Regions from separate parts of the Homo sapiens genome. Here region 1 is linked to region 2. Evidence: fine-mapped expression QTL. A gene starts in region 2. The other region holds a variant in brackets. All regions are shown on one strand. Distances are from middle to middle. Region 1 overlaps SUSD1 (sushi domain containing 1). Region 2 holds the start of UGCG (UDP-glucose ceramide glucosyltransferase).

Evidence for each region. PIP is the estimated chance that this variant, and not a neighbour inherited with it, causes the effect.
Region 1: its variant is fine-mapped to the expression of UGCG in whole blood (TOPMed, PIP above 0.99). The same link has a PIP of 0.9 or more in neutrophils.

Annotation. Positions count from the first base shown.
Region 1 is chr9:112,061,959-112,078,011 of GRCh38, reverse strand. It overlaps SUSD1 (sushi domain containing 1), which reads left to right. Exons shown (of 17, transcript NM_022486.5): 13 at 14,979-15,075. Among named protein-coding and RNA genes, the nearest start is that of LINC02977, 30 kb to the right of the region's middle. RefSeq lists enhancers at 822-921, 4,127-4,296. The variant A/C (reference allele first, on the strand shown) is at 8,264.
Region 2 is chr9:111,893,294-111,909,346 of GRCh38, reverse strand. UGCG (UDP-glucose ceramide glucosyltransferase) reads right to left here and starts at 12,533. Exons shown (of 9, transcript NM_003358.3): 1 at 12,034-12,533. The coding sequence starts at 12,131. RefSeq lists enhancers at 5,489-5,588, 12,499-13,082 and silencers at 12,089-12,178, 12,289-12,878.

The DNA.
Region 1 (16,053 bases), 170 kb before region 2:
GGGGAGGGGGAGGGGGAAGATACCTGAAACAAAATGTCAGCATTGATGAAATGTGGGTAGTGTGTCCATCCATGGTGTTGGTTGTATAGCTTCTGGATATTTAAAGCATTTAAAATACTTTATACTTAAACAAAAAATGCTTGTGGCTCTTTCTTTCTCAGGAATATTTAGTTGGCATCCTGTTGCAAGTACTTTAAGAGTAGATTACTAGCTAGGCACAGTGGCTCAAACCTGTAATCCCAGCACTTTGGGAAGCTGAGGAGGGTTGATCATGTGAGGATCATTTCGAGATCAGCCTGGCTGACGTGGTGAAACCCCACCTCTACTAAGAATACAAAAATTAGCTGGGTGTGGTGTCAGGTGCCTGTAATCCCAGCTACTCGGGAGGCTGAGGCAGGAGAATTGCTTGAACCCAGGAGGTGGAGGTTGTGTTGATCTGAGATCGCACTCCAGCCTAGGCAACAAGAGCAAAACTCCATCTCAAAAAAAAAAAAAAAAAAAAAAAAAAAAAAGTAGATTACTATCAGGGGACAATGATTGTAGTCCTCCGGCTATAGGGCCCCAGTAAATTCACTTTCCACTCATTTTCTCCTCCCTCTTCACATCTGTGACCCCCACTTCACACATGCTCTGAGCAAATACTAAGCATATTAGCTTCTTGATTCTTATTTCACTGAGAAATTAGAAGTAGTCAGGTGAGGACTTCCCACGCTCAGCCCTGCCGTTCCTCCTTGCATCCTGTTCTGCCTCCCTTCCTGTCCCTGCTCGTGTGTAAGGCTGCCATCCCCTCAACTTGTGCCTTAGATCCCATCCCTTCTTCCCTGATCAGCACTTCCCCTCAATACAGAATTATCCCCAGCATTGCCTAGCATGTTGCAACATCCTCCTTGTGAACGAAAAGAAAGAAAAAATGAGCAGACCTTCTTTGAGCCCATATTTGTCTTCAGCTACTTTGCCTTCTCTCTGCCCCTTTCTATAAAAACTCCTTGAAAGAAATGGCTGTTCTGTAGGCTCCACAGCCCTACCTCCTGTTCTCACTTTCACTCATCCCACGTGGGAAACATACGTCTTCATTGCTTTACTGAAAGGCTCTTCGTTTGATCTCCGTCTTGCCAAATCCAATGGCCAGTTTTGTTCTTATCTGATTTCTTCGATAGCGTTGACACTCCCTCCCTCTTGAAACCCCCTCTCCCTTAGTTTTGGTTCCTTCTGCCTTGCTGTCCCCTCTCAGTCTTCTTTGCTAGCTCCATCTACTTTTATGACCCCTCTTCAGCCTCCTTTTCTTCATTATCTACCCTTTCTGCTTAGGTGATCTCAACCAGTCTTATGGCTATAACTATTACCTATATGCAGAGGATTTCCAAAGATCAATTTCTAGTCCCAGCCTCTCCTTTGAGCACCAGACTCCTATATCCACCCAACTTCTACACATGTCCTATTGAACATCTAATACGCAAATCAAACGGAACTTGTGATTTCTCACCTCTGCCCTCGCCCCCAAATCGGTTTCCACCCAGGCTTCTCTGTTTCTATCTGTTACTTTCTGTCTGTTATTGGAATTTCTGTTCACCCAATTGTTCAGACCAAAAACAAGTCCTAATTGGTTCTATCCCATCCCCAAATTTCTAATCTGTCAACAAGCCCTGTTGGCTTGCTGTCTGAAATATATTCTGAATTCCACCACTTCTCCCCACCTGTGCCTTTTCCACAACTACCCTAATCCAAGACAGCCACCTCTTGCTTGGATTCCTGCTGTAGTTTTCAAACTGGTTTTCTCTTGCCTATATACCTCCCACCCTGGACCTTAGTCTTAGTCTTCACCATAACTTTCAAAAGATCACTCAGCACTCAGAGTGATCTTTTAAAAATGCATTTGGGAACATGTCAGCACCAGCTCAAAACTCTCCAGTGAGTTTCCATTAAAGTTAGAATGGAATCCAAGTTCCTCATCATAGGACATGTCATCTGGCCCCTGCCTACTTCTAATTCATCTCCCCCTGCTCTCCTCCTTTCCCATTAAGCATCAGCTGTCTCCCTGGCCTTCTTGCAGTTCCTTCAATGGGTCAAAGTTTTTCCAGCCTCCAGACTTTTCCATCTGCAGTTCACACTTCCTGGGACACTGTCAACATATGGCTTCTCCATAGTTGTTCAGGTGCCTGCTCAACTGCCATCACCAGCCTCCACGCTAGTACTCTGTATCTACTTACCCTGCTTCAATTTCTTCATAGAGCTTCATATTAATAAAAAATATTAATTATTAGTTTTTAGAGATAGGGTCTCACTCTGTCACCCAGGCTGGAGTGCAGTGGTGCAATCATAACTCACTGCAGCCTTGAGCCCCTGGGCTGTAGCAATCCTTCTGCCTCAGCCTGCTGAGTAGCTGGGACTATAGGCGCTCACCACCATGCCTGGCTAATTACAAAAGGGATTTTTTTGTTTTTATTTTTTGTAGAGATGAGGGTCTCCCTATGTTGCCTAGGCTGGTCTTGAACTTCTGGCCTCAAGTGATCCTCCCATCTCACCTCCCAAAGTGCTGAGATTATAGGCATGAGTCTCTGTGCCCAGCCTAGAGCTTGTTTTCTAAAAACTTATTTTTTTTTTATTTTCTTTCTCTCCCACTAAAATAGGAGCTTCCTGAAGACAGTGATTTTTGTCTGTATGTTTTACATTCAACCCTCAGTGGGTAAGAATGGTACTGATAGATAGCATAACAGCCCAAAATTTTAAAATAACAGCCAGTGGGTGGTATTGGTGTTGAGGAGATGTCTGGTTAGGCAATGAATTCTGGCTACCAGAAAGAATTCCCCACATTTTGGGCTGGAGAGACAAGTGGTGTTCAGTCTGGGCATTTCTTTCTGTGGTGACTTATTAAAATGAATAGCGACTCCATCTCCATTTCCTACTCTGTGGTCTTTCTCATATTTGGATGCTGTGCTTTTCTGGTTTGAAGGACCGTTGCATATTTTTTTGAGTAAAGGGGAGGGGGTTTCATCTTGATGAGACACTTACTCCTTGTTTGGTAGGCTGAATAGAGCTTTAGTGGCTCAAGTTCCCTCTCTCTGTGCTCATGGCCACCAGGGGACATTGTTGAGCTGTTTAATGTTCATTGAGATGCCTATTTTCCAACTCTACCCACTTTAAAGGACTCGTAATTTTAAAGAAGCATAAAAAAATCAAGTTGCTTTGATCTTATGAAAGAGTTAAAAAAAAAAAAAAACCAACCCCTTTCTTTTATAAAAGGAGGAAAAAAGAGAAGCTTATGTGTTGATGTGCAGAGATACTCGTGGTTTCCTAAGAAGTGTGTGGCCTTATTTCGGTAAAATCATGAACTTTTGAATTTTGGCAGATGTGTTAGGCTAAGGATTTGGGTCTGGACAATGTAGCTGCTCATTTCCCAGAAGGAAAGAGAGTGGAATTTCCCTTCTGAGTGTCTTACGTTAAATCTTACTGATGGGAACAGGATGAAAACAAGTGCTTTAAATACATCGCTGACCTCAGAGGACAGTGAAGGTTCTAGGAATGTTGAGGGACAGAGGCAAGTGTTTCGGTGAATGCAGGAAAGCAGGGGCTGGCGAGGGGGTGGGTGAGATGGAGCTGTGGCCTCACGGTGTTTCTGACTCTTGGCTGATAGGCTGCAGACGGCACATTGAACTGAATTCTTCAGGATAGCCCCACGGCACGCATCCCCTTTAGGACAGGGTGAGGAACAAACTTTCATCCTTGATGCAGGCCCCAAAGAGTCAGAAGAGCATCCACATGTTGAGTGTGCTATTTTCTTTTTCTTTTTTTTTGTTTTGAGACAGAATTTCGCTCTGTCACCCAGGCTGGAGTGCAGTGGCGTGATCTGAGCTCACTGCAACCTCCACCTCCTGAGTTCAAGTGATTCTTATGTCTCAGCCTCCCAAGTAGCTGGGATTACAGGTGTGTGCCACCACGCTTGGCTAATTTTATATGTTTAGTAGAGATGGGGTTTCACCATGTTGGCCAGGCTGATCTTGAACTCCTGGCCTTAAGTGATCCGCCCACTTCGGCCTCCCAAAGTGCTGGGATCACAGGTGTGAGCCACTGCACTGGCCTCCTTCCCTTCCTTTCCCTTTCCCTTTCTTTTTTTGAGACAGTCTTGCTCTGTTGCCCAGGCTTGCTCTGTTGCTTACGCAGTGGTGTGATCTCGACTCACTGCAACCTCTGCCTCCCAGGTTCAAGCGATTCTCATGCCCCGACCTCCCAAGTAGCGGGAATTACAGGCACACATCACCAGCCCCGTCTAATTTTAAAAATATATTTTTAGTAGAGATGAGGTTTTGCCATGTTGTCCAGGCTGGTCTCAAACTCCTGACCTCAAGTGATCTGCCTGCCCTTAGCCTCTCAAAGTGCTGGGATTACAGGCATGAGCCACTGTCCAGCTGAGTATGCTATTTTCTTGCTAAGTCTAAAAGCTTTGTAGGCAACATTTTCTTATATAGAGAGAGAAAGAGGAAACCAGAGAGAGGAGGATGGGGGTGGGTGGGGGCGGGGTGGGGAAGAGAGAGAAAGAGAGAGAGAGAGAGTGAGCGTGAGAAAGCCAATACATACGTAAATGTGGAGATAAACCAGACCACTTGTCTTACACAACATGGTGATCATTTGAGATGGAATGTTTATTATGGAACCAAGCATGCTGGAGGAGCAAAGGGAAGAAAAGATGAAAAGGAAATTATTTATTCCCATGTCTTCAGTACCAAGGCTGGCAACTTCTTCAAGAAATTTCCCATCTCTCATTGTATTCATAACAAGAAAAAGGAAAGTACTTTTTCAGACGGTTAGGAAAACAACAGAAAACACAGGAGTGTCCCAGGCATTTATCAGATTGTCACTTTATCAGAGAGGTCCAGCCAGGACTGCCCTGATCCTCCCTGCCCCTGCCTCTGACACCGCCCTCCACAATGGGATGTCCTCAGGGAAGACTGTGCAGGACTAGGTCTCTTGGTTTCTTTTACCGAGGCTTCTCTTTCATGGTTGGTTACCCACAAACCATCCAAGGATGCTGTACCCCTGTGTCCTCAGTGAGAAACCCATCTCCCCTGGCTGGTTCCAAGGTACCACACTTATCCCTGGGGGCCCCCCTGGCTCCAAGGGGGCTGAAGCTGTACCACAGGTCAGCAGAGGGACTGGCCTTCATGCCAGCTGTTTTCCTTTCCAAGTCTTCCGTGGACACAGGCTCTTTTGATATCTGGAGCCCTAACATTAGGTCACGCTAGGAGAGGCATGTTTGCCCTTCCATGCTTCCACAGTCCACGTATTTCTCTCATTCCCAGAAATCTCCCAACTGCTTTCTAGCTTCAAAACAAACCCCAAGCCCCCAAGTAAATGGCTGTGTGGGGATGGGTGTCTCCCAGACCCTCTTGCTACCAGCATCTGAATCTCAGCCAAAGTTAGCTTTTATAAAACGTGCATGAGAAGGTATTCTTAGATCAGAAGCCTGGAAACTAGGGTTTCTGTGTGTGTTGGGAGAGGGGGAGGGGCTTGCTGAGCTGTAACAATTTAATTTAGCAAATATTTATTTATTTACTTGTATTTGTTAAAAATGAGATGGGTTGGCCAGGCACGGTGGCTCATGCCTGTAATCCCATCCCAGCACTTTTGGAAGCTGAGGTGGGTGAGTTCGAGACCAGCCTGGCCAACATGGTGAAACCCAGTCTCTACTAAAAATACAAAAATTAGCTGGGTGTGGTGTGGGTGCTTGTAATCCCACCTACCTGGGAGGCTGAGGCAGGAGAATCTCCTGAACCCGGGAGGCAGAGTTGCAGTGAGCTGAGATTGTGCCACTGCAGTCCAGCCTAGACAACAGAGTGAGACTCCGTCTCAAAAAAAAAAACAAAAAAAAAAAAAAAAGAGAAAGAAAGAAATAAAAAAGAATAAAAATAAATAAATAATAAAAGGAGATGTCTTGAGAAGTCACTAGCAAATATTTTTCGATTGGTTATGTACAAAGACCTGTGCTGCCTACTGAGGATGTACATGTGAAAAGAAATTGGTTTCTTCTCCTTGGGAGGTGAAGTCTCATAACTTTATTGATGGAGAAGATATATCTAGCTGATGACTTGTAGTGGAAGACACTATTTTTTCTGTTGCCTTCAATTTTAATTTACCATGCCTTGGATGGGATGATATATCTGGAGAGGTGCCTGAGGATTAGAAAAGAACCATCATGCTGTGTTTATTTTTCTACCTACTTTTTATTATAGAAAATCCAGAAAAGTAGCATTGTACTGGGTTTTTGGGCGGTGGAGTTGTGTTTTAATTCAATTGTTTGTGTTTACTTGAAGTTTGCAGTACAAAGTTGGAGACGTTGCTTAGTTTTGATGCAGATAAAATTTTCTTCCATTTTTGGTTCTTTTTGTTCATTTTGATGGGTTTTACATAGAGACATTTTAACACATTTGTACTTATACTACCCTTTTTCTTTGGTTGATTTAATAGTTTACCTTCATTAGTGATATTAATATTTTGATAAATATTACAAATTCCTACTCCAAGGCTATTTACTCTTTTGTTTTCTTTTCAATTTTTTTTGAGACTGAGTTTCATTATGTTGCCCTGGCTGGAGTGCTGTGGCACAATCATAGCTTACTGCAGCCTCAAACTCCTGGGCTCAAGCAGTCCTCCTGCCTCAGCCTCCCAAGTAGCTGAGACTACAGGTGCATGTCACCACACCCTGCTAATTTTTTCTTTTTGTAAAGATGAGGTCTTACTATGTTGCCCAGGCTGGTCTCAAACTCCTGAGCCCAAGCAATCATTTTTGCCTAGGCCTCCCAAAAAGCCAGGATTATAGGTGGGAGCCACTGCACCTGACCTACTTTTTTGCACTTAAAATTTAGTTTCAGGCTGGGCACAGTGGCACATTCCTATAATTCCAGCGCTCTAGGAGGCTGAGGAGAGAGGACTGCTTGAGTCCAGGAGTTCAAAGCTGCAGTGAACTATGATCATGCCAGTGCACCCCAGCCTGGGCGACACAGTGAGACCACTTTTCTACAACAAACAAACAAACAAAACCAAAACAAAACCACTTAGGTTCATTTGGAATTTATTTTGATGTCTGATATGAGGCTAAATTTACATTGTAATTTTTCTCCCCAGCTGTAAGCCAGTTCCCTATCACCTTTGGAACTACTGACCATCCATGCCACCTGGTGCATTTCTTTGGGTCTCTTTCCAGACTGTCTAGCTTTTTTTCACTGTTTGTCTGTCCTGTGCGTGTACTTTACTATTTCAATTGCTGTAATTTTATGATACATTTAATATTTTTTTTTGCAGAGCAAATTCTCCTTCATTACTTTTCCCCACATTTCCCTCCATGTGAGGATTTCTTTTGCCATTTGCTTCTAGCAGAGGAGGGATATTCCTGACATCCGAGGATGGTAATGAAGGTCTCTGTTCTGGTTCCTCTCCCATCTCACACACCCAAGGTGAAAGAGCTATATTTTCCAGCACAGGCAGGACCCATTTCTTGCCTTGGGTCTAAATCAGTTTAAATCAGTAACGAGGTTGATGGAAAGGAGAGCAGGTCTACCCAGGACATCAGTTTGGGAGACAAGGAAGAGCACCTTGGAAAATTCAGCTGAAAGTCAAGTTTGTTCCACCTCGAAATGTGGCTGAGAACCAGCCTGACGAGGCTTAGGCTTGTACATTGGAGAGAAAAAGTAGACTGTTTAAAATATAAGGCAGCGGCTGGGCGTGGTGGCTCATGCCTGTAATGCCAGCACTTTGGGAGGCCGAGGCAGGTGGAATCACCTGGGGTCAGGAGTTCGGGACCAGCCTGGCCAACATGGAGAAACCCCGTCTCTACTAAAAATACAAAAATCAGCCGTGTGTGGTGGTGCATGCCTGTAATCCCAGCTACTCGGGAGGCTGTGGCAGGAGAATTGCTTGAGCCCGGGAGGCGGAGGCTGCAGTGAGCTGAGATCACACCATTGCACTCCAGCCTGGGCGACAAGAGCGAAACTCCATCTCAAAAAGCAAAAGCAAAAACAAAAACAAAAACAAATAAAATAAAATATAGGGCAGGGAGACCTTAGGCAAACAGAGCAGAAAATGGTCTCAAAGTCACATGTTGATTGAACCAGATGACTGTGGTGCCTTGAAAACTGTGACTCTAGATTGGGAAAGAGTGACATCACCTGGACCAAGCAGGGGGATGGCCTTCCTGCTCGGTCTGCAGTTGCCTCTTCTGAGCTCAGTGAGTACTTTGTTCTGCTTCTCCTGTGTGGTTTTAAAATGTTAGCCA[A/C]GAGATTAGAGGAACTAGAATTATTACTCTTGGAGTAAAGAGCTGGTGGGGGCGGGGCGGGGTGGGGTGGGGCGGAGTTCTCACACAGAAAAGAGTGACCAGTTAATCTCCACCTTGGCTGAGAAGAGGAGACACGTAATAAAAAAAGTTAATTTTACTGTGACAACAAAACGTCACAAGTGAAAGGGCATTTCGGTGATAGCAAAGGGCCTGAGGGCAGTTCGATCTCAAAGGGGAAGGGGTACGTTCCCAGGGGACATGTGTGGGCTTTTCCTCTCTCCTCCATCACTGCCACAGGAATCCAGCTGTTGTCTTCTCAGCTGTATCCTACAGAATCTCTCTCTGGACTGCTCTTGAAAATAGCATAGACCTTCATTTCAACAAATGAGTGATGTGAGGCCTAGACTCTAAGCAGAGGCTTTTCCAGGTGACCTCCTGGGACACCTGGCAATGCCGCAGGTTTAGGAAAAACATGATCTATATTGCAGTGTCTAAGAGACTCTGGGAGAAATTCTAGACCTAACACTGTTTCATAAAGGCCACAGAGTTCTCTTACTCTTCCACCTGGTCTTAGAGCCTGGGTTTCTCGGTGGTCCGCCCTTGGCCCCCATCTCTCCTCACATACTTTGATACTGGCTCCCTGGTGGCCACGTTCACTCCTCCCTGTGAGCTGCCTCTGTATCTCCACCATGGGGTTTGCTCCTAGGCTCCAGACCTATGTTTCTAACTGCCTGCTGGAGGATTCCTTATACACTTCAACCTGAACAGACCTAGAAGTGAGCTGCTTCTCGTCTTCCCCCAGACTTGGTAAATGACATCACTGCTGACTTGGTTGCCAGATTCCTGCCGTCTCTCCCCTGAGCAAGGTTTCCGTTTGTTCCCTCTTCTCCATTCTCAGTGCTCTCACTTGCAGCAGACCTCGAGCACTTCCGACCTGGATTATTGGACAACCTGTATTTTTGCCCTTTTTCTATTCATCCTTTGATCAGCTCTCTAAGTTGTATTTTTGAAGTGCAGAACGGCTAAAAATATTTTTTTTTTTTTTTTTTGAGACAGGGTCTAGCTGTTGCCCAGGCTGGAGTGCAGTGGTGCAATCTTGGCTCACTGCAACCTCTGCCTCCCGGGCTCAAGCAATCCTCCCACCTTGGCCTCATGAGTAGCTGGGATCACAGGTGTACACCACTGTGCCTGACTAATTTAAAACATTTTTTGTAGAGACAAGGTTTCACCATGTTGCCCAAGCTGGTCTTGAACTCTTGGCCTCAAACAACCTGCTTGCCTCAAGTGCTGGGATTACAGGCATGAGCCAGTGCACCCAGCCTGCTAAAAATCTTTCAATGGCTTCTTATTACTTCTGGAACCTCAGATCTCTCAGATCTGACCCACACCTACCCCTCTAACTTGACCACCTACTTCTACTCTGCCAGACCTCAACCTTTCAGCCAGGAACTCCATGTAGTTCTATCCCTCCCTGCCACCACCTCATGCCTCTGCAGATGTCTATTTCCGTGTTTGATAGGCTCAGCTCCCTGCCTTCAGTTAGATGTTCCTCCTCACATCCACAGTGCTCTGTATATAACTCCATCACAGCTCTGGGCACTACCTTTACAAAACTGTCTCCATGATTACACTCCAAGCTCCCAGAAAGCAGAAAGCATGTCTTCTGTGCTTGTCTCCCCCAGCCTAGCACAGAGCCTGCGGCAGAGGTGGCTAATGGGTGTTTGTTGAATGCAGATATATGAATAATATATATAGTAGTGCTTTAACAACTGTAAAGGTCCAGGCAGGTCTAAGTTTTTATTTATTATAATTTGAGATTGAGGGTTTCTACCCCAAAGCTATTTTCTAATCTGGTAAATACAGTCTTGAGAATCTATTTTGGCCTCAGAGTCCTTCAGTTCACAGTGGCAGGGTTTAGGGCTAGGGTGGGGGGATTGGGGGGGAGGCATTCATACATATGTTTTTAATAGCTCTTTCTCTTTCCTTCCATCATGCCCTTCCTCCCTTGCCCTACTGAGCTGATGCAGTGATAGACTTTGAAGGAGGGGTGGTTTAGTCCAGGGTCTAAAGGGGATTCTTAAGGCAGTTCTTCCTGCTGTCCTCACTGTCTCCACCACCCAAGGGGTTTAGCATTTGCCTGGAATTCACAGCAATTCTTCTTGCACAAATGCATAAGGACCACTTCCCTACCGTGTTCACTTGGCCTAGCACCAGAGTTCCTGCCAGTACACAGCTGAGGGTTCTGCCTTTCCACAGAATACCAAGGCGCTGGATGCATTCTATAGTCAGGGCTCTTTTGGTTGCAAGTGACAGAAACCCAACTCCAACCAGCTTAAGCATGTGGAATCTGTGGGATCACAGAACTGGGAAGGCCCAGGATGGATCTTGTTTGGAGACAGCAAGCTTCAGTCACACGTGGTGTCACCACAGGCCCGTTGCTCTTCCAGCCATGAGGCCCTCTTTCTGCCAAATTCTTCCAGCCAGACCTGGGAGGATGGACATTGTACTATTGGCCTACCTGGTACTTACAGCTACAATCTAAGAAGAAGAATAAAACCCTCCAATCTTCTAGGCCTGGTGTGGTGGCTCACGCCTGTAATCCCAGCACTTTGGGAGGCAGAGGTGGGCGGATCACCTGAGGTGAGGAGTGTTGAGACCAGCCTGGCCAACATGGTGAAACCCCATCTCTACTAAAAATACAAAAATTAGCTGTGCATGGTGGTGTATGCCTTGTAGTCCCAGCTACTCGGGAGGCTGAGGTAGAAGAAGAGCTTGAACCTGGGAGGCAGAGATTGCAGTGAGCCAAGATCATGCCACTGTACTCCAGCCTGGGTGACAGAGTGAGACTCCATCTCAAAAAAACAGATAAACAACAAAAAATAAAACCTCCAATCTCCTAAACAGATTGCTCTTTTTGAGCCATCTTCTGACTGGGGAATGGCAATCCATAATCACTGGGCCCTGGGCCAGTGGGGATTTGGAGTACTGGGAATGCTGGCCCCATAAGAACCATATGGGAAGGAGAAGGGCCGCTCTCCACAGAAAAAGGGATGCTGAGCACTTACATATAAAGTATGTAACATATGAAAAGACAACACGTACGGACTCGGAGAATCTCAGGCACAAGGTGTCCCATCTTTGGGAGTTTCGCGATTACAGGGTTGCAGCTTTCCATGGTCTCTTCCAGGTTTGTTTTCTTTCAAGCCCCGTTCATTCAGCAGAATGCCACTCCAGACCTGACTTAGGAACACTGCCTATTTCGCCTGGCTTCTGTTGCCACTCTCTGTGCTGTAAGGAACCCTCTTTCTATATTACAAGTCACAGTTCCCTGAATGACATTTCCTGTGTACTCAAGCTGGGAAGGAGCTAAACCTGTCCCTATGGTCTCCCTCCTGGGGTCATTTCTGAGTTTTTTCTTTTCTATTCATCCCTTCCCTTTGAACTTGCTAATTAAGAGATCCTTGGTGTTTGACACCCCAGGACCCCCAAGCTCTGTTCCTTACGGTCTCAGGCACAGAGGTCTCTCATTCCTCAGGGATTTGTAATTCCAGGTTTCTACTTCTAGGTCATGGTTTAATCTCAGGTAAAGTGAACGCAAGCATTGTCATGGCCTGGCAATGTAGCGAAGGAGACTTTGGAGTCAAATTACTGAGTTCCACACTTGGCTCGGCCGGCCGTCTTCTAGTGGTGTGACTCGGCCTGCCTGAGCCTTGATTTCCTCACTGATAAGATAGAGATGATTGTCACGCAGAGCTGCTGTGAGTATTTGTTGAAACAGCAGAGGCAAAGTTCCTAGCATAGAATTGGCAACTAGTAGCTCAAGTGATATCATACAGGTGCCAACAGGCGCTGACGGCTGCTGTGTTCCAGGCACTGTTTTATTCTCTTTACTTGTGTTGACTCATTAACTATTATTGTTAATCATTATGAATTGGCTCATTAATTCCCTCAACAGGCCTAACAGGTAGAGGTTGTTTCTACCCCTATTTAACAGATGAGGCTGCTGGAGGTATAAGTGATAGAACCAGGATAGCAACCCAAGTCCTGTGTTCCTACCCACTACATCGTATTATTTCTGCAGTTTAACTGTAGTCTAGCTTCTCTGATGTGAGCCACACTGGGTAGACCTCTAACTCTGCAGTAATTGTGGCAAGTGGATCATTTTATTGGAGCTGATGTGTTTGTAAAATCTTTGGGGATTCAGTGTTTTTATTTTTACTTTTTGAGACAGAGTCTCACTTTTTCGCCCAGGCTGGAGTGCAGTGGCACAATCTCGGCTCACTGCAACCTCTGCCTCCCAGCTTCAAGCAATTCACCTGCCTCAGACTCCTGAGTAGCTGGGATTACAGAGGTGTGCCACCATGCCTGGCTAATTTTTGTATTTTTTTACTAGAGATGGGATTTCACCATGTTGCCCAGGCTAGTCTCAAACTCCTGACCTCAAGTGATCCGCCCACCTCTGCCTCCCAAAGTGCTGGGATTACAGGCATGAGCCACTGTCCCTGGCCGGTGTTTTTAAAGTAGAGTTTGTTAGTTCACTCAAAGGGGATGAAAATTTGCCAGATCAATTGGTAGAACCAAATGTTTAAGATACCCCAAGGTGAATGAGAGGGGTGTGTAAGCAGAGCGTGAGTTCACATTCTGACTCTACGACTTGCTAATCGTGTGGCCTTTGGACAAGTAACAATCTGTCATGTATCAATTTCCTCATCTATAAAATGAGTTTTTCTGAGATAATAACTGTACTTGTTCCACCTCTGAGATTAGGGAAATTGAAGAAGATACATAAGCGTTAGAAAGGGATCAAAGTAATCAGTTTTATTGCTGGTAAAACTGGTTTGGGTCTGAGGCTTCTTTTTTTTTTTTTTTTTCTGAGACAGAGTCTCACTCTGTCACCCAGGCTGGAGTGCAGTGGCATGATCTTGGCTCACTGCAACCTCTGCCTGCCCGGTTCAAGCGATTCTCCTGCCTCTGCCTCCTGAGTAGCTGGGATTACAGGTGCCCGCCACCACGCCTGGCTAATTTTTGCATCTTTAGTAGAGACAGAGTCTCACCATGTTGGCCAGGCTGGTCTCAAACTCCTGGCCTCCGGTGATCCGCCTGCCTTGGCCTTCCAAAGTGCTGGGATTACAGGCGTGAGCCACCGCACCCCCGCACCCGGCCAAAATGAAGCTTCTTGAACTTCCTCCCACGCCTACACTTTGTGCCCCACCTATGGGGAAGTGGAAGCTATAATGCAGTGGTCCCCAGCCTTGTTGGTGCCAGGGACTGGTTTCATCAGAGACAGTTTTCCAACGGACTGGGGTGGGTAGGGGGATGGTTTCGGGATAAAATTGTTCCACCTCAGATCATCAGGCATTAGATTCTCATAAGGAGTGCACAATCTAGATCCCTTGTATGCACAGTTCACAATAGGGTTCATGCTCTTATGAGAATCTAATGCTGCCACTGATCTGACAGGAGGTGGAGCTCAGGCAGGAATGCTTGTCCACCTGCTGCTCACCTCCTGCTGTGTGGCCTGGTTCCTAACAGGCCACAGACTGGTACTGGCCCACCACCTGGGGTTGGGAACCCCGGCTATAGGGCAAATGTAGACCAGGCTTCAGGCAGGTGACTCAGGTTTGCCTAGAGATGGACAGTAGGACTGGGAGGTGGGAAATCACCTGTCCTGCATTCAGGCAGCCCCCACCCGCCCCCCCCCCAAAAAAAGAAAGAAAAATAAAAAAATAAGGATGGGGCTACATGGGAACTAGCTGTTTCACAAATCACAGGGATGGATAGAAGGCCAGGTGGAAGCTCTTTTCCTAATACTTTGGAGAGGGAAGAAGTTCCTACATTGCATGGGTAGGAACCCCAAGAGAGGAAGCAAATGATTGCTTCTATAAACATCATCCACTTGGTAGCCCTGTTGAGAAGATTAAGTAAGATGGGGCATATGTAGAACATCTCTAGTGTGAATGGTTAGTGCCCAGTATGTCTTACTTAGCGTGTTACCCACAAGGCAGAATGGCAGTTAGCACATTTATACCATGACTGTAACTACCAGTGAGCAAGAACGCTGGTGTCAGCCAGTCAGTGTAGTTTCCTCCGGATGGAAAACCTATTTGGGAAATCTTGTTGCTGGGGGCGGGAAAATAAGGACAGAGAGCTCTGTGATTATAAAGGATATTGAAGGCTGATGTGGTGGTCTTCCCTACCAAGTAGGAATCTACCCACCAAGCAAACTGTAATACTCACCACATCTATCCTCTGCCAGTGCCATGATATACTCATCACTTCTTTTTATTGTGGCAAAATACACATCACATAAAATGTGCCATTTTAACATCTTGAAGCACACAGTTTATTGGCATGTTGTGCAACCCTCACCACTGTGTATTTCCAAAATTTTTTCATCACCCCAAGGAGAACCTCTGTGACCATTAAGCAATATGTTCCCATTCCCTACATGCCCCCTCCACCCCCAGCAACTTCTTCTGTCTCTATGAATTTGCCTATGTTAGATTTTTCATCTAAGTGGAATGATAGAGAATCTGTCCTTTTGTGCCTGGTGTATTTCACTTAGCATGTTCTTCCACATTGTGGCATGTACAGAATAGGCTCCTCGCTTCTGAAATTAAAACTTTCTTTTTGATAGCCCTCACGAGGACCTCTTTTGTCCTGCTGTTTACTTGTTCCAATCATACCCCTTTTCTTCTTTTCAACATGTTTTCAGAGCCTCCCCTCCCGGAAGTAGAATTTTTTACGGTGCACAGAGGACCTCTACCACGCCTCAGACTGAGGAAAGCCAAGGAGAAAAATGGACCAATCAGGTCAGTAGCTGTCCTTTCTCCACGGTTGCCCAGTGATCCCCATGGAGTGTTTTGGAAACTTTGATTTTGGTGAGGAGAAGACTTCTGTGTTGGTGGCTGCACTTGGGTGGTTAGAACAATGCAGTTGGGGCCTCTTTTGTTTCCTTGGGTACAGACTGGCCTTTAATCCCAACCAGCATCCTTTCTAATGGTGAGAGAGACTTCTTTTTTTTAAAATTTAAATTTTATTTTTTATTTTTTTGAGATGGAGTGTCACTCCCATCATACAGGCCGGAGTACAGTGTTGCGATCTCAGCTCACTGCAACCTCCACCTGCTGGGTGCAAGTGATTCTCCTTCCACTGCCTCCTGAGTAGCTGGGATTATAGGTGTGCACCACCACACCTGGCTAATTTTTGTATTTTTAGTTGAGACGAGGTTTTGCCATGTTGGTCAGGCTGGTCTTGAACTCCTGACCTCAGGTGATCCACCAGCCTCAACCTCCCAAAGTGCTAGGATTACAGGCTTGAACCACCACACCCGGCCACATAGAGAGACTTCTAAAGGACCCTATATACAAGCATTTGGGCAGTTTAGCTCAAGAAATTACATCCATTCCTTTGGTCCCTGGGTAAACGTCGGTTGCATGTTAGGACATGTCAGGATTGTCCTTTGCACTCATGTCTCATAGTACATCCTTTATGGATGGTGGGTCAGGGGCATCGTTTCATTTCCCAAAGGCAGAATATGTTGCCCTTTATGTAAGGTTGATCTTGGGGGGTGTGCAGTGGTTTCTGAAAAGATCATTTAGGTAAATCTTTTTGTCTTTTCATGTATTGAGTTACAGGCAAGACACTGTATAATTAATGACTGCTTCTGGGATTCCAGATGGCATTAGGATGGAATTAATTTACCTCAGTTGGAGGACTACAGTGTGTTCAGTTAAGTGTTTTATTTGCAAAGGTCATGGCAGGATTAGGAAAGTAGCATCAGTCCCTTT
Region 2 (16,053 bases):
AAATCCCAGTGATTTTTTTCAAAAAAATTTTTTTAAATCCCAGTGATTTTTTTTCAAAAACATTTTTTAAATCCCAGTGGTTTTTTTCAAAATAAAGAAGAGTTTCCAAGGTCAGAAGTAGCCTTGTGGGCTGGTGCAGTGGCTCATGCTTATAATTCTAGCACTTTGGGAAGATGAGGCAGGCGGATCACTTGAGGTCAGGAGTTCAAGACCAGCCTGGCCAACATGGCAAAACCCCCATCTCTACTAAAAATAGAAAAATTAGCTGGGCGTGGTGGCACACGCCTATAATTCCAGCTACTCGGGAAGCTGAGACACAAGAATGACTTGAACCTGGGAGGCAGAGGTTGCAGTGAGCCGAGATCGCACCACTGCACTCCAGCCTGGGTGACAGAGAGGGAGAGAGGGAGGGAGGGCACTGTGATCAATTGCCTAGTGTTTCAAAAGTGGCCTCCACGGTGGAGCCCTTAAAGTGGGGCAGTATTATAAGTGGCTCGGACAGGGTCTTACAAGTTTTACTGGTTTCTAACTAGTTTTTCTTTTAGTGTCTCAGATCAGGGTTTCTGCATTTCCTAGACAGTATGAACTTGAGCCTATGATTCCTACACGTTGCACAAGCTTTCTCATGGGTGTCCATTTCTACCCTCAGCCTAGGGCAGACGACTTGCTTTCTAGGTTCTATACTGGGAATCCAGTTCTTACCTTCCTATAATGCATCTGGCTTGCAGCCTTGACCTTTTTGTTGGGGAAGTGGTGTGGGGGGTACTTTTTATTGATACATAATGTACATATTATAAAGTCACCTGTAAGTACACAGCTCAAAGAATTTTCTCAAAGTGAAACTCTCATGTAACCAGTACCCAGATCAAAAAACAGTATTAGCAGAACCCCAGAAGTCCTCTCGTGTCTCCTTCCACGTACTATGCTCCCCTCAAGGGTACTCACTGTCCTGACTTCAGACTAGTTTTGCTGGCTTTAAATTTTTATATAAATGGAATCCCATAGGATGTATCTTTCCTGTCTGGCCTCTTTGGGTTGCGTTATGTTTGTGAGAATCATCCGCGTTGTTACATTTAGCTATCATGTATTCACTCTTGTTACAGGATAGTTTTACTAATATACCACACTTTATTTACTTTCTGTTGATGGATGTTTGGGTTGTTTACAGTTTGAGGTTATTATAACTAGTGTGCAGCACTGACTCTGTCCTCGCACTAGTACTAAAAGCCCTACTCTTCCCACCACCCACCCCCCAAGCCTTCAACTTTTGGACAAGATGAAGAAACGCTAACTGGATTTACTCTCTCCCACCTGAAACAACCAAAAAATCAGAAAAAAATACAGGAGACAACAGTTTTGAAGATACTGGACATCAAGCAAAGGAAGACAGTGATTCCTATGACACAGAAAATAAGGTAGGCTGGGTGCGGTGGCTCACGCCTGTAATCCCAGCACTTTGGGAGGCCAAGGCGGGAGGATAATTTGAGGTCAGGAGTTCGAGACCAGCCTGGCCAACATGGTGAAACCCTATCTCTTCTAAAAATACAAAAAATAATTAGCCAGGTGTGGCCTCACGTGCCTGTAATCCCAGCTACTCGGGAGGCTGAGGCAGGAGAATCACTTGAATCCGGGAGGCGGAGGTTGCAGTGAGCCAAGATCGCACCACTGCACTCCAGCCTGGGCAACAGAGCAAGATTCCATCTCAAAAAAAAAAAAAAGAAAGAAAATGAATTGAAGAGCTGGAGTCAACAGTCCAGAAAAACAAAAACATCCAGCACCCAACACGGTGAAATTCAAAATGTCTGGTATCTATTAAAAAATTTCCAAGCATGCAAAGAATCAGGAAAATATACCAATGAGAAGAAATATCAATAAATTAAAACCCCACCGGGATTCAAATTAGCAGACCAGACCAACCCACTGCTTTGCATTCCCTCTTGGTTTCTGGAATATGCAGATTTTCTTTTCACATTTTCAGGCTCTGGGTGTGTAAGTGTCTAATCGTTACAGCATTTCCATGTGTTAATAGGAGAGGTGGTTCTCACATGTGCACACGCCACCTCTCATTCAGAAGTAGAGTCTGTACGGGACTCTGCAAATGCAGTGTGATACAGGCTATCATCAAAGTATGTTTGGAACACTTTGAGAGAAGAGAGATGGAAGCATCCAACTACTCCTAGGAGGCGGTCTTTCCAGACTTTCATACTCCAAGTGTGGCCCATGGACCAGCAGCATTGGCAACACCTGGGAGCTTTTCAGAGCTTCAAAATTTCAGGCCTCATCCCCCAAAACTACTGAAACTCAATCTTCAGTTTAACAAGATCTCTAGGTGATTCACAGGCACACTCAAGCTTGAGCAGCACTGCTTTAAGACTCATCTCTGCTATAAATTCTTCGTGACTTCACAGACAAGGCTGAAAAGGCCTGGAGCTCATCCTCTAGGCAAGAAATAACCATGAAAGACTAAAAGGAAGCAACCAGGATCATTTTTGTATTTATAGAAGTTAAGAGAATAAAGTACAGGCAGGGGAGATGGAAGGCAAGGGAAAAATATTGCAAAGGTCCAAAAGAAAGAGACAAGCACACAAACCAGAAAGGCATAAGAAACAAGTGAAAGGCTGGGTGCAGTGGCTCATGCCTGTAATCCCAGCCAATTTGGGAGGCTGAGGCAGGTGGATCACCTGAGGTTGGGAGTTCAAGACCAGCCTGGCCAACATGGTGAAACCCCGTCTCTACTAAAAATACAAAAATTAGCCAGGCATGGTGGCGCACACCTGTAATCCCAGCTAGTCGGGAGGCTGAGGCAGGAGAATCACTTGAACCCAGGAGGCAGAGGTTGTGGTGAGCCGAGTCCGTACCACTGAACTCCAGCTTGGGCGACACAGCGAGACTGTCTCAAAACAAAACAAAACAAAACAAAACACACACACAAAAGAAACAAGCGAAGGAAGCAAAGTCAAGAGAAGGTGAGAACTCAGAATCAAGGAGTTTAGCCAATAACTGATGATGGTATTGCTGGAGGGGGAATGAGGGATAATGAGGGGTATACCTGGGTCAGGCTATGGTAACTAGTGGTGCCATTCATAAAATCTGGGCACAATGAGAGATGGGAAAGAGTAATGAACTTTTGAACATACGAACTTTAATTTACTCTCAAGACATCAAGTGGTGACATCTCATCTAGGAGACCAGAGGTTTGCAACTTGTAGTATAAATAATGCCCACAGGTAGAGATCACAAGTGAATAAACCAGATGAAGAGACTAGGAATCTGCATTTTTCACAAGCATACCAAATGATGCAGGCTGGCAGTAAACTACAACTGGAGAAACACTACAGTAGAATATAAATTCTCCAGAGCCCAGCAAAGCAATAATACACAGTATGTTCTCAATTTTTAAAAATAATTTTGAATAAATGAAGAGTAAATAAATAAACAGATACAGAGAGCTCAGCAGGTAAGGTTAGCCTAGAGATAAAAATACAGAAGCCATCCACCGTAAGGTAAATACACAAGCTCTCTGAGGCACAGCATTCTTAGAAGATGGCCAAGAAGGAATATATTATTATTGAATCAGTAATGCATGAAGGAGAGGCCGGGCTCAGTGGCTCATGCCTGTAATCCCAGCACTTTGGGAGGCTGAGGCGGGTGGATCACCTGAGGTCAGGAGTTCGAGACCAGCCCAACCAATATGGTGAAACCCCGTCTCTACTAAAAATACAAAAATTAGCCGGGCACGGTGGTGCGCCTGTAATCCCAGCAACTTGGGAGGCTGAGGCAGAAGAACTGCTTGAACCTGGGAAGCAGAGGTTGCAGTGAGCCAAGATTGTGCCACTGCACTCCAGCCTGGATGACAAGATCGAAACTCCCTCTCAAAAAAAAAAAAAGAGTAATGCATGAAGGAGACTAAAAGTGGGGATCAAAGAAGCAGAAAGACAGCCAGGATGCAAGTAAAGTGACAGAAGGGTTTATCTGGCCAGGCTGTTTTCTTTCTCAAAGGGTTCAAGAAAGAATAACACTGAATGCTGCTGGAGAGACCAAGGTAAGAATGGTAATGTCCAGTAGATTACATATGTACTTGCTGCTATCTCTGAGCACTTTTGGCAAGAATTGGGGCAGTTCATGGAGGATAAGGGTAGACAGCTAAAAATCGGTTAAAAAGTAAATGAATGGGAGTTGAAATGTGATAACAGTAAACAAACACTAGTTTCTACTGAAACCTGACAGTGAGTGAAAGGGCCAAAGGGTGGAACAGACGGCTTCTAGTTTAATTTTTCTAGTTTTTTTTGAGATACAATCTTGCTCTGTCACCCAGGTTGGAGTGCAGTGGCAATCATAGCTCACTGCATACCACTGCCTCTGGCTAATTTTTTAAAATTTTTCTGTGGCGATGGGGTCTTGCTATATTGCTCAGGCTGGTTTTGAACTCCTGGCCTCAGGCGATCCTCCCCGCCTTGGCTCTCTAGTTGAATTTTTTTTCCTCCAAGACAAAGTTTTGCTCTTGTTGCCCAGGCTGGAGAGCAATGGCACAACCTTGGCTCACTGTAACCTCCACCTCCCGAGTTCAAGTGATTCTCCTGCCTCAGCCTCCGGAGTAGCTGGGATTACAGGCGAGCACCACCACACCCGGCTAATTTTTTGTATTTTTAGTAGAGATGGTGTTTCCCCATGTTGGCCAGGCTGGTCTCAAACTCCTGACCTCAGGTGATCCACCTGCCTCGGCCTCCCAAAGTGCTGGGATTACAGGTGTGAGCCACCAAGCCCAGCCTCTAGTTCAATTTTTTAAAGACTACTTGAAATTCTTTAAAAATTCAAGAAGAGCTAGCCGAAGGGCAAAGAGAGAAAAAGAAAAAACTAATTTAAGGCATGATGGGATCCACAGTATGAAGTAGGAGCTAAGGTCATCTACCAAGAATGCGGTAGAATGAAGATTTAGAAGAGGTTTTTTTAAGTGATGGATGTCAGAGCTAAACACAGAAAAAAAAGCACTGCCAGGCAGCACCGCAATGCAGGTTTAGCTGAGCCCTGAGACTACCAATGTGTAGTAGTATTAGTCCACATGGCTGTGTGATTACCCTCTGTAGGATTTTCAAAGTTGAGCAGCTATAATTATTGGATGGATTCAAGATAACAGGGCAGACTGATACGAGGTGAGGCAAGAGGCAAGATAATGAAGTGATGAACTGTGGGCTCTAGGCTAAATGGAGAATTAAATGAAGCCAAGAGGTGGCAGGTGCTGGACACAACTGTGGGCAGACAGCCTGGGGCAATCATTCTCAGCCTAGGCTGCACATCCATGTCACCTATGGAGTTTTGAAAATACTGATGCCTGAACCAATTTAACCATGTCTGTAGGGGTGAGACCCAGGCAGCAGTTGTTTCTTTTTTTTAAGCCCTTGATGTGACTCCATAGTGCAGTCAAACTTGACAACCACAGGTCTAGAAAGACTGGGTGACTGAAGAATGGAAAGGCCTATAATCCCAGCACCTGTGGAGGCCGAGGCAGGCAGATTGTTTGAGCTCAGGAGTTCGAGACCAGCCTAGCCAACACGGCGGAACCCCGTCTCTACAAAAAACACAAAAATCAGCCAGGCGTGGTGGCATGTGCCTGTAGTCCCAGCTACCCAGGAGGCTGAGGTAGGAGGACTGCTTGAGCCTGGGAGGTCAAGGCTGTGGTGAGCCATGATCGCACTACTGCACTCCAGCCTGGGTAACAGAGCGAGACCCTATCTCAAAAAGAAAAGAAAAAAAGCCAAGGTGGGAACATTTTTCTTTTTTTTCTGAGGCAGAGTCTTGCTCTGTCACCCACACTGGAGTGCAGTGGCACAATCTTGGCTCACTGCAAGCCCCACCTCCTGGGTTCAAGCGATTCTCCTGTCTCTGCCTCCCAAGTAGCTGGGATTACAGGCGCCTGCCACCACACCCAGCTAATTTTTGTATTTTTAGTAGAGATGGGGTTTTGCCACGTTGGTCAGGCTGGTCTTGAACTCCTGACCTCAGGTGATCTGCCTGCCTCGGCCTCCCAAAGTGCTGGGATTACAGGCGTGAGCCACCACGCCCTGTCTGTCTCATTTTTAAATAACTTCTTTTACAGTTCTGTTTTCAAATTTGGCTTTTGCAAGAGGGAAGCCTGGGATGCAGGGAAACCCACTGGAGACAGGTAAAGGTTAAACAAGGAGGGTGGGCTCCTTCCCCTTCAGATGGCGGGAAGCAGCCTCTGCAGCAACCTTAATACAGCTCCTCACAAGTGAGGCACAAGAATTTCACTCGGCTGGGTACAGTGGCTCATGCCTGTAATCCCAGCACTTTGCTGGGCTGAGATGGGGGAATCACTTGAGGCCAGGAGTTCAAGACCAGACTGGCCAACATCATGAAACCCCACCTCTACTGAAAGTACAAAAATTAGCGGGGTGTGGTGGCACGTGCTTGTAGTCTCAGCTGCTTGGGAGGCTGAGGCACAAGAATCACTCAAACCCAGAAGGCGGAGGTTGCAGTAAGCCGAGATCGCACCACTGCCATCCAGCCTGGGCAACAGAATGAGACTCTGTCTCAAAAAAAAAAAAAGAGAGAATTTCACTCTAGGTTTCTAAGGAAGAATATGAATTCCACAAGGGCAAAAGTTCACCTTGCTTAACAACCCCAGAATGTGTTGTTTTTATAATTCCGCTGTGTGGTTCTGCTGAACCAATTTATCTGACTCTAGGAATTTATCTTCCCTGCTCCAAGTCACAAAGCTTGTTAGTATTTCGTGTAAAATTAGGTTCACTGCTATATCAGCAAGTCCCTAACTTCACATAGTCCATGCCAGCAATTTCCAGTGACTAATGACCTTTGTTATTGTTATCACTCATGACTATATTACTGTTTGTTTATAATCAGTATATCATGACCAATTTACTACCTGTATCACTTATTTCAAAAATGGTATTGCTTCAAAATGGGCTTCATAAGCAATATAAAGCACACCTTCTTGTGCAAGCTTAACCTTGCTAACACAAATTCTCTCACAGAAGGTAAAATAACCAATAGTGAGTTAGCTCTATAGGAAAACACAAACTCTGCCCACTGGACAATGGGCTTACTACACTATAGAATGTAGAAGATTCCACCACCATAGAAAACAAATAGGAGATGGCTGGGTGCCATAAGGGGCACCTAACCCAATAAGGAACTAAAGTCTAAAATGACTTGAACGAGTAGGAGTTAATTAAGCAAGATTTTTGGAAGGAAAGAAGGAAGAGAAAGAAAAAAGAAAGAAAGTAAAGACAATTCCAAAGAAAGCACATTGTACATTTGGGGAAATGCCAGTAATACAACGTTGCTGGTTCAGCTCCTACAGAGCTGTGCTTGTCTCATTAAGGAGTTTGAACTGTAACCCGGAGGCAATGAGGATTCATGGTAAGATTTTAAGCTACTGTGATCCAAGATTAGTAATCCAGAAGGATAAAGGCTACAATAAGAAATATAAAATCGAGGGGGCACAAGGCTGCAGCTAGAGATACCAGCGAGTAGACATAGCTTCAACATCTAGGATAGATATGAAGGTGTGCTGAACTAACTAATGTCAGAGAGAAAGGCAGGGATAATGAATCAATAGAACCATCACTGAATACTAAAATCTTGCAATTTCCACTTTGCTCTTTTTCTTTTCTTCAACTTTTAAGTTCAGGGGTACATGTGCAGGATGTGCAGGTTTGTTACGTAGGTAAACATGTGCCATGGTGGTTTGCTGCCCAGGTCATCCCATCACCGAGGTATTAAGCCCAGTATCTATTAACTATTCTTCTTGATGCTCTCCCTCCCCACACTGCCCCTCACTTTGTTCTTTAAAGCTATCACACTATAGTCTAATTCCGTATCTTCCCAGGCTCAGGTTAAAGGGGCTGAATTGCTGGACTGCCTTATTCATTTCCCTGAAAGTAGCCCTGTAGCAATGATCCTGACTGATGAACGTTTGACCACAGTCCAAGGGCATTGGCAGGACTAAACCCAAAAAAGACGTTCTCAATTTACATTCCACTAAGGCTTGGAACACCAAGTATTCATGAATTTAAGGCAAAGATCGTACTAACTAAAAATAATATCCCAAATGCTAAAATTTACATGAAAAACATAACCAGTTTTTGACGGGTAGTTTATCGCAGTTATCCTGACACAATGAGTATGCAAATTCCATTCAAAAACTGTGCATCAGGTATTGAAGTTGCTGTACATTAGAGATAGCATATTTGGGTTGGGCGCAGTGGCTCACGCCCGTAATCCCAGAACTTCAGGAGGCCAAGGTGGGGGGATCACTTGAGCCCAGGAGTTTGAGACCAGCCTGGGTGACAAAAATTAGCTGGGCGTGATGGCATGCACCGGTAGTCCCAGCTACTTGGGAGGCTGAGGTGGGAGAATTGCTCGAGCCTGGGATGTGAAGCCGTGATCGAGCCACTGCATTCCAGCCTGGGCAACAGAGAGGACTGTCTCAAAAAAATAACAATAAACAAAATAAAGGAAATACGTTTGTAGAAAGCAGAATTAACTTTAAAAAAAACTTAAAAAATCTCCAGGGGGCCAGGCATGATGGCTCACACCTGTAATCCCAGCACTTTGGGAGCCAAGACAGGTAGATCACTTAAGTCCAGGAGTTCAAGACCAGCCTGGGAAACATGGCAGAACCCTGTCTCTACAAAAAGCACAAAAATTAGCCAGGCATGCCTGTAGTCCCAGCTACTTGGGAGCTACTTAGGAAGCTGAAGCAGGAGAATCATTTCAGCCTGGGATGCGGTGGTTGCAGTCAGCCAAGATCGTGCCATTGCACTCCAGCCTAAGCAACAGAGCAAGACCCTGTATCAAAGAAAGAATACACACACACACACACACACACATATACATATACACCTCCAGGTAAAAAAGGACCTCTGTTTTACTTGAGGGTAGCTAATATTTAAGGACACATAAATTATTTCCACACTAGCCTAGCACCTCCAGTCGAAAGATAAAGCCTGATGATAAACATTAGGACCTTATGTACACAGGGAAATAATAATAATATGAGGTGGATGGGATAGGGAAGAGAGCATGAAGCAAGGTTTCTGCTTAGATCACTTCATCACGCAGCAACGTGGCTCCCAAGGGCTAGAAGAGAAACACTACCATCAGGTCTAGGCTTTTATACAATTTCACCTTAGGCCCCAACCTATCAAGCCACACTAGCACTTACCATTAAAAAAAAAAAAAAAAATTAACCCATAAAGGCTATTTAACTTGCCAAGGCTATACTCTTTAGTTATTTTTAGGAAATCTTCAATCTCAACAATAAGACTCTTGAATTTGAAATGTCTCTAATCTGAATGTTACCTTTGACATTGTTGGCAGAAATCCTACAAACATCTGCCATCTAAAATAGGTTAAGAAAGGGCAATAGAAGCTTTGAAACATACCCAAGTATAAAGCAGAATTTAGTTTATAATAAAAATATTTCAAAACAGTGGAATAATCAAATAATCATCTGATAAGTAATTCTGGACAAGTCTCTAAATATTTAGAAGAAACTATAATTAGGGCTCTAGCTCTCATATAACGAAGTAAAATACTGGGTGAATTCAGGGTAATATGTGAAAAAATTAAGAAAAAAATACTAAGAGGAAGCAGAGACTAACATATATAATAATTTGGAGGAATAAGGAAGATATAAAAATTATAACAGAGTTAGAAAATGTAAAAGAAACGGAAAGACCTATCTACCTAAAACACACATGCACACACACTTTTCTCCATGTCAAATATATGTACAAAGTTAAAAGACAAAAAACAGACTGGGGAAAAGAATGCTACATGTGACAGAAAACAACCTTTATATCAGAAAGATGAATTCAGCAACAGATTGCAGCACAGGCAAAGGATTATGAGTATGTAATTTACATCTAAATGTAACTAGCATATAAACATATTTTAAAAGTGCTCAATGTAACTTTAAAGGAATGAAAATAGAAACAGAAAACAGTGAAATGCCTGCTACTTAGTGTTTGTAAGGCAAAATGGGGCCATCATACAATGTTACCAGGACTGTGAATATACATAACATTTCCATGGGGCCAATATGTATCAAAGTTTAAAATGTGCACCACTTCTGGCCCAATAATTCCTCTTTCGGAAATATAAATGAGATCATTTCTCAAAGATGTATGCATATAAATTCATCACAGTGTTCTTTGTAATCTAGATAAATTGGAAACAACCTAAACATCCATCAGTAATAATAAATAAATCTTGGTACCTGGTAAACTAAAATATCATGCATCTATTACAAATGATGTAGAGATCATACAGATATTGACATGCAAAAAACGGTCAAGACATTTTACAGGACAGTTCCATGTGAACAGGGGCCTTGTATGTTTGTTCTTCACTCTTCCAGCAACTAGAACAGTGCCTTGCACAAAACGGCTTTTCAATAAACATTTATTAAACAGATGAACTTTAAAGCAGGTTACAGAACAATAATCATAATATAGTCCTTTTCTCTCTTCCCTCTTCCCCTCCCTCCTTCTCTCTCTCTCACACACACACACAGATTGGAAGGATAGTCACAAAAGGTTAACAAGGTAATGTAGTTTTGGTGTGTGCATATTTTAATTTTCTCCATCTCTCTCTATTGCATAAATTCCTTACACAGTAAGCATTTTTTATTTTTATGACGGTAAAAAGTAACAATTTTTTTAAAGAAAAAGAACTCACATATTTTAAATGAACTCCAGAATGTGCTGTGACTAAGCTCACCAACTCCAAAAACTAAAGTCAACAATATCCAAGTGGCATGTTTTCTTTCACTTTCAAAGAAATATCAGTATAACCTGTACCAGCATCATCTTTCTCAGTACCAGGAAATGCCACACTATACTAATAAAATACAGTGTTTCCAAAAGCAAAGGCACACTTTTTCCGCAGTAAAAAGGAAAAAAAAAAAACCAAAAAACTAAAAGTAACTAATTTCTTAAAGTCTCTTCCACTAACATACACTCTATTCTAGTTCATGGTAACGATTACTATATACAATTGCTCTTTTCTCCCCCCAGACTAAAAATCCAAGTGAATCGATATCAGTAATGTGCTCTATATAATTTTTTCATTTCTTTACAGAGGCAGATTTCACCTTAAACAGTGGATATACCAAACTAGCCACATAACCCATGTCTCTATTCACGCCATCACCCAGTTCTATTTTACTTACACGCTTCGTCACAATCTCATAACCTTATTTAGATTTTATCTGCTCCTTCCTTCTAGAATGTAAGACTCATGAGGACAGGAATTCTGTCCTGCTCACCACCATGTCCCCTGGCCAATAACAGTGAATGGTATCTAGTAGGCCTCAAGAAGTATTTGTTAAACAAAAATGAAAAGATGTGGCCGGCACGGGGAGAGTACAAATCTACATAAAACAATAAAACGAGGAACTGAAAAAAGGAAAGAAAACCACGCTGAGATGTACAAGCTGACAGGACTCAAAGCTATCATGCCAGCTCGGAGGTTTGGTGGACATTTTTCAGGGTGGACAGGTGCTTCACACCTATCTAAGCGCATAGAGCCCTTCCAGGAAGAAGAAAATCCACAGAGAGGTGTCCAGATAGCTGTGAGCAGCTCCCAGAAAAGTGGACACAATCACCACCCTAACAGAAACGTGGCCCAGGTCGGGAGAAAAAAACAATACACCATACATCTCGGCCCAGATGAAAAATTACACGAATCCCCAGCACAATCAAACCAAGCCACCACCTTCAGCCTGACACGTAAGAGCAGTCTCCTTTAGCCTGGCTGGGCAGTCGCCTGCAACCCAGCAAACCCTTCCCACGCCCAACACTTTTCCCTCGCAAAGACCACCGCCACCGCCGGTCCGAGGGGCGAGGGAACGGGGGGAACAGCCTGACGATCAGCTTTCTCCACCCCCGCCCGAGCCCAGTCCCCTTCAAAGCGCAAACGTTTCCCATTCTCGCCTGTCTCCGAGGCCCGGACCCCTGCCCCGAGCCCCTCCTGCGGTCCCTCACTCACGTGTAGATGATAGCCATGAAATGCATCAGCCACAGCACCAAGAAGAGGACGAACCCGAAGACGGCCATTCCCTCCAAGGCCAGGTCCAGCAGCGCCATCCCCCGGCCCGCCGGACCGGCCCGGCCCGCTGCGGCCGCCAACACGGACAACGCTCCCGCAGGAGGAGGACAGGGTGGGCGCCCGGTGCGGGGGCGCGGGAGGCGAGAGGAAGGTGGGGAGAGGAAAGGGCGGAGGGGGGTGGGGACGGAAGGGGCGGGCAGGGCCTGCGCGCCCCCGCCCGCGCGCTCTCGCCTGCGCGCTGTCTTCGGCGCGCTCGCGGGCGGCTGCGGGTGCTGCGGTCTCCCGGCTCTGGTCGGGGCGACCGCGGTCCCGCGCTCCGGTTCGCCTCTCCCGAGCCTCGCGGCCGCCCACCAGACCCTGCGCGCGGGCACCTCCGCCGCCTCTCCGTCTCGCCGCCGGGCTCCCGGCCGAGCAGCTCCACCGCCGCAGCTCCGCGCACTAATCAAAACCGGCGGCTCGCGCCCCACTCCTCGGCGCGTCCCGCCCCCGGAACCGCGGCGCCCGCCTCTCCCAGGGGCGGTGCCCCCATCGGTCCACGCCCACCCTGTCGCCCGCGCGCCCGCTGCGGCGCCGGCGAGAGCGCGCCGGGGAGATCGTGTCCTGCTGCCCGCAGGACGCAGGCCGGGCTTCCTCCGGCTCCTCGCTCCCGCTGCCGCCCACCTAGGCGGAAAGCGCTGCAGCCCTGGGCCGGGCTCCCTCGGTGTCGGTGGCAGCTCGGGACCCTGTGCCTGGCTGGAGGCTGCTCTCTCTCCGTCTGGCCCTGCTGTTCCTGGGTGCCCCAGAAAAAGACACGGGTTCCGGGCAGCTGCCGGAGCTTGTCTAGAAATCCAACTTCCAACGCCGCGTCTGCAGCCTCCCCGCCGGGCACTGCTACTGCTCGGAGCAGCCAGGCCCTCCAGGCCACGTTCCTGGGCGCAAGGGATGCCCATTGCCTTCCCTCTTACTGCTTTTAATGCTGTGGGATCTTGGATCAAAAGGGACCGGAGAGTAAAATAATCTCCATGCGCCTCACAGATCTCTAAGCGCCTTAGCGACCGTGTGTATTATAAAAAGAAATTCTCAAATTCAGAATTAAAGAATCAGTTGATATTGAAATTCCCTAAGACTGCCATCCAATACGGTAGCCGCATGTGGCTAAGTGAGGGTTGGAAAGGCAGCTTGCCACTCTGTGGAGTAAACAGTACACCAGATGTGGAAGACCATCTCGTTAGTAAATTTTATATTGATTGCATGTTGAAAAGGTAATATTTTGGACATACTACATTAAATTAGGTAAATTATTAAGTTAATTTCTCTTTTTAAATACTTTGGCTAGCTACTAGAAAATTTTAATTGTACGTGTGGACAGCACAGCTCTAAAATGGGAAGAAATGTCACTTTGGGTAGTAAGGTAACTAAGTATTTGTCCTAATTTTAAGTCATCCCAAGAAGATGCTAGTACTCAATGTTTGTGTTTCTTCAATCTAGATGAGTTTATACTATTTCTGCATTGTTTTATGTTTATTGTTGCAAGTGATTTCCTTTTAAATAATCCATGACCTCCCTTGAGATATTTCAGAATTGAATTCAATTTTGAAAAGAAGTTGTGGCTGGGCGCGGTGGCTCACACCTGTAGTCCCAGCACTTTGGGAGGCGGAGGCAGGTGGAGCATGAGGTCAGGAGTTCAAGACCGGCCTGGCCTAGATGGTGAAACCCCGTCTCTACTAAAAATACAAAGAATTAGCCGGGCGTGGTGGCAGGCGCCTGTAATCCCAGCTACTCCGGAGGCTGAGGCAGAGAATTGCTTAAACCTGGAGGGGCGGAGGTTGCAGTGAGCCGAGATCGCGCCACTGCACTCCAGCCTGGGCGACAGAGCGAGACTCTGTCTCGAAAAAAAATAGATGAATTTAAAAAAAAGAAAAGAAGTTGTTTATTATTGCTGTTTATGGTAGTTAATAGTCACTGAATGATCTACCTCAATCTGCAATTAAATGACAAACTACAACTAGAAGAGTTAATGTCCGAACCATTCCTCGATTAACATCCTTGGCTCCACTGGTGCAGAATCAGTGGGAAAGAACAATGCTTCAAAATCAAATTCCCACTGTTGAGAGTTACTGGCTGATAAAAATAGCAGGATGGAGGGCCAGGCGCAGTGGCTCATGCCTGTAATCCCAGCAGTTTGGGAGACTCAGGTAGGAGGATTGCTTGAGGCCAGGAGTTTGAGACCAGCCTGGGCAACATGATGAAACCCTGTCTCTACAAAAAAAAAAAAAAAAAAAAATTAGCCAGGCATGGTTATGGCACCTATAGTCCCAGCTACCGGGAAGGCTGAGGTGGTAGGATCACCTGATCCTGGGAAGTGGCGGCTGCAGTGAGCTGTGATCGCGCCACTTAACTCCAGCCTGGGTGACAGTGAGTCCCTGTCTTAAAAAAAAGTGGAATAGAATTCTAACATCGAAATAACGTTCCAAACAAAAATTTACGATTGTAGTTAATTCTAAGGCACACTTCAAAAAAACACTTTAACAAATTTTAATTTCTCTGAAATGGGAATGCATCTCACAGTCAATGCCATCTTAGAGTTAATTGGCGTTTTTTCTTTTTTTTTTTTTTTTTTTTGAGGTGGAGTCTCGCTCTGTCGCCAAGGCTGGAGTGCAGTGGCGTGATCTAGGCTCACAGGAACCTCCGCCTCCTGAGTTCAAGCAATTCTCCTGTCTCACCCTCCCCAGTAGCTGGGACTACATTTGCACACCACCACACCCGGCTAATTTTTGTGTTTTTAGTAGAGACGGGGTTTCACCATATTGTTCAGGCTAGTCTCGAACTCCTGACCTCGTGATCCACCTGCCTCGGCCTCCCAAAGTGCTGGGATTACAGGCGTGAGTCACCGTGCCCAGCCAATGGCTTGTGGTTTTCTTTTACTCAAATATAAAATAATAGTGCATCTTAGTGATATATAAAATAATGCTGCATCTTATCATTAAATGCCCTCTTAGATTTGAGGAACACCAATTGCTTAATTTAAGCATTGTTTTATATTCTGCATTTTTTCAAAAATGTTTTCTGGAACCTTACAACAAAGGATTTTATACAGTATGACCAATAACACAAAAAAAGAGGCCAAAGAAATGTGAAAGTAGATATTCTTAAGAGTTAACAAATTTGCTAAATTGAGTATAATCAGTAGATTAAAGATCAGTTATATTATACTTGACCCTAGTTAAACTATGTTTACCCAAACTTCGTTTTAAAACAGCTTTAGAAAAGGGAAGAGTATGAAGACAGTATAAAGATCTGTGGTTGCCATGGAGCAGAGGAAAGAGGGACAAATAGATGACAGGATTTTTAGGGCTGTGAGTGAAACTATTCTGTATGATCCTATAATAGTGTATACATGTCATATATTTGGCAAACCCCGTAGAAAATACACCACCAAGAGTGAACCCTAATGTAAGCTATGGACTTTAGGTGATAATGGTGTGTTAATGTAGGTCCATCAGTTGTAACGAATATGGTGCTCTGGTGCAAGATGTTAATAGTGGAGGAGGCTGGTGGAGGGAATGGCAGTGGGTATATGGGAACCTTCTGTACTTTCTGCTCAGTTTTGCTGTGAACCTAAAACTACTCTAAAAAGTAAATTCTTAAAAAAAATTAGTGAGTGTTCCACTAAAGGTGTTCTACTTATATATGTATACAAATATGTGTATAACATTGGAAATGCTATAAATGTCTGAATAAGATATACCAGTTTGCGGCTGGGCGCGGTGGCTCAGGCCTGTAATTGCAGCACTGTGGGAGGCCAAGGTGGGAGGATCTCAAGCCAGCCTGGGCAACATGGCGAAACCCTGTTTCTACAAAAAATAGAAAAATTAGCTGGGCGTGGTGGCAGGCAACGTGGTAAAACCCTGTTTCTACAAAAAATACAAAATCTAGCCAGGCATGGTGGTGGGTACCTGTAATTCCAGCTACTTGGGAGGC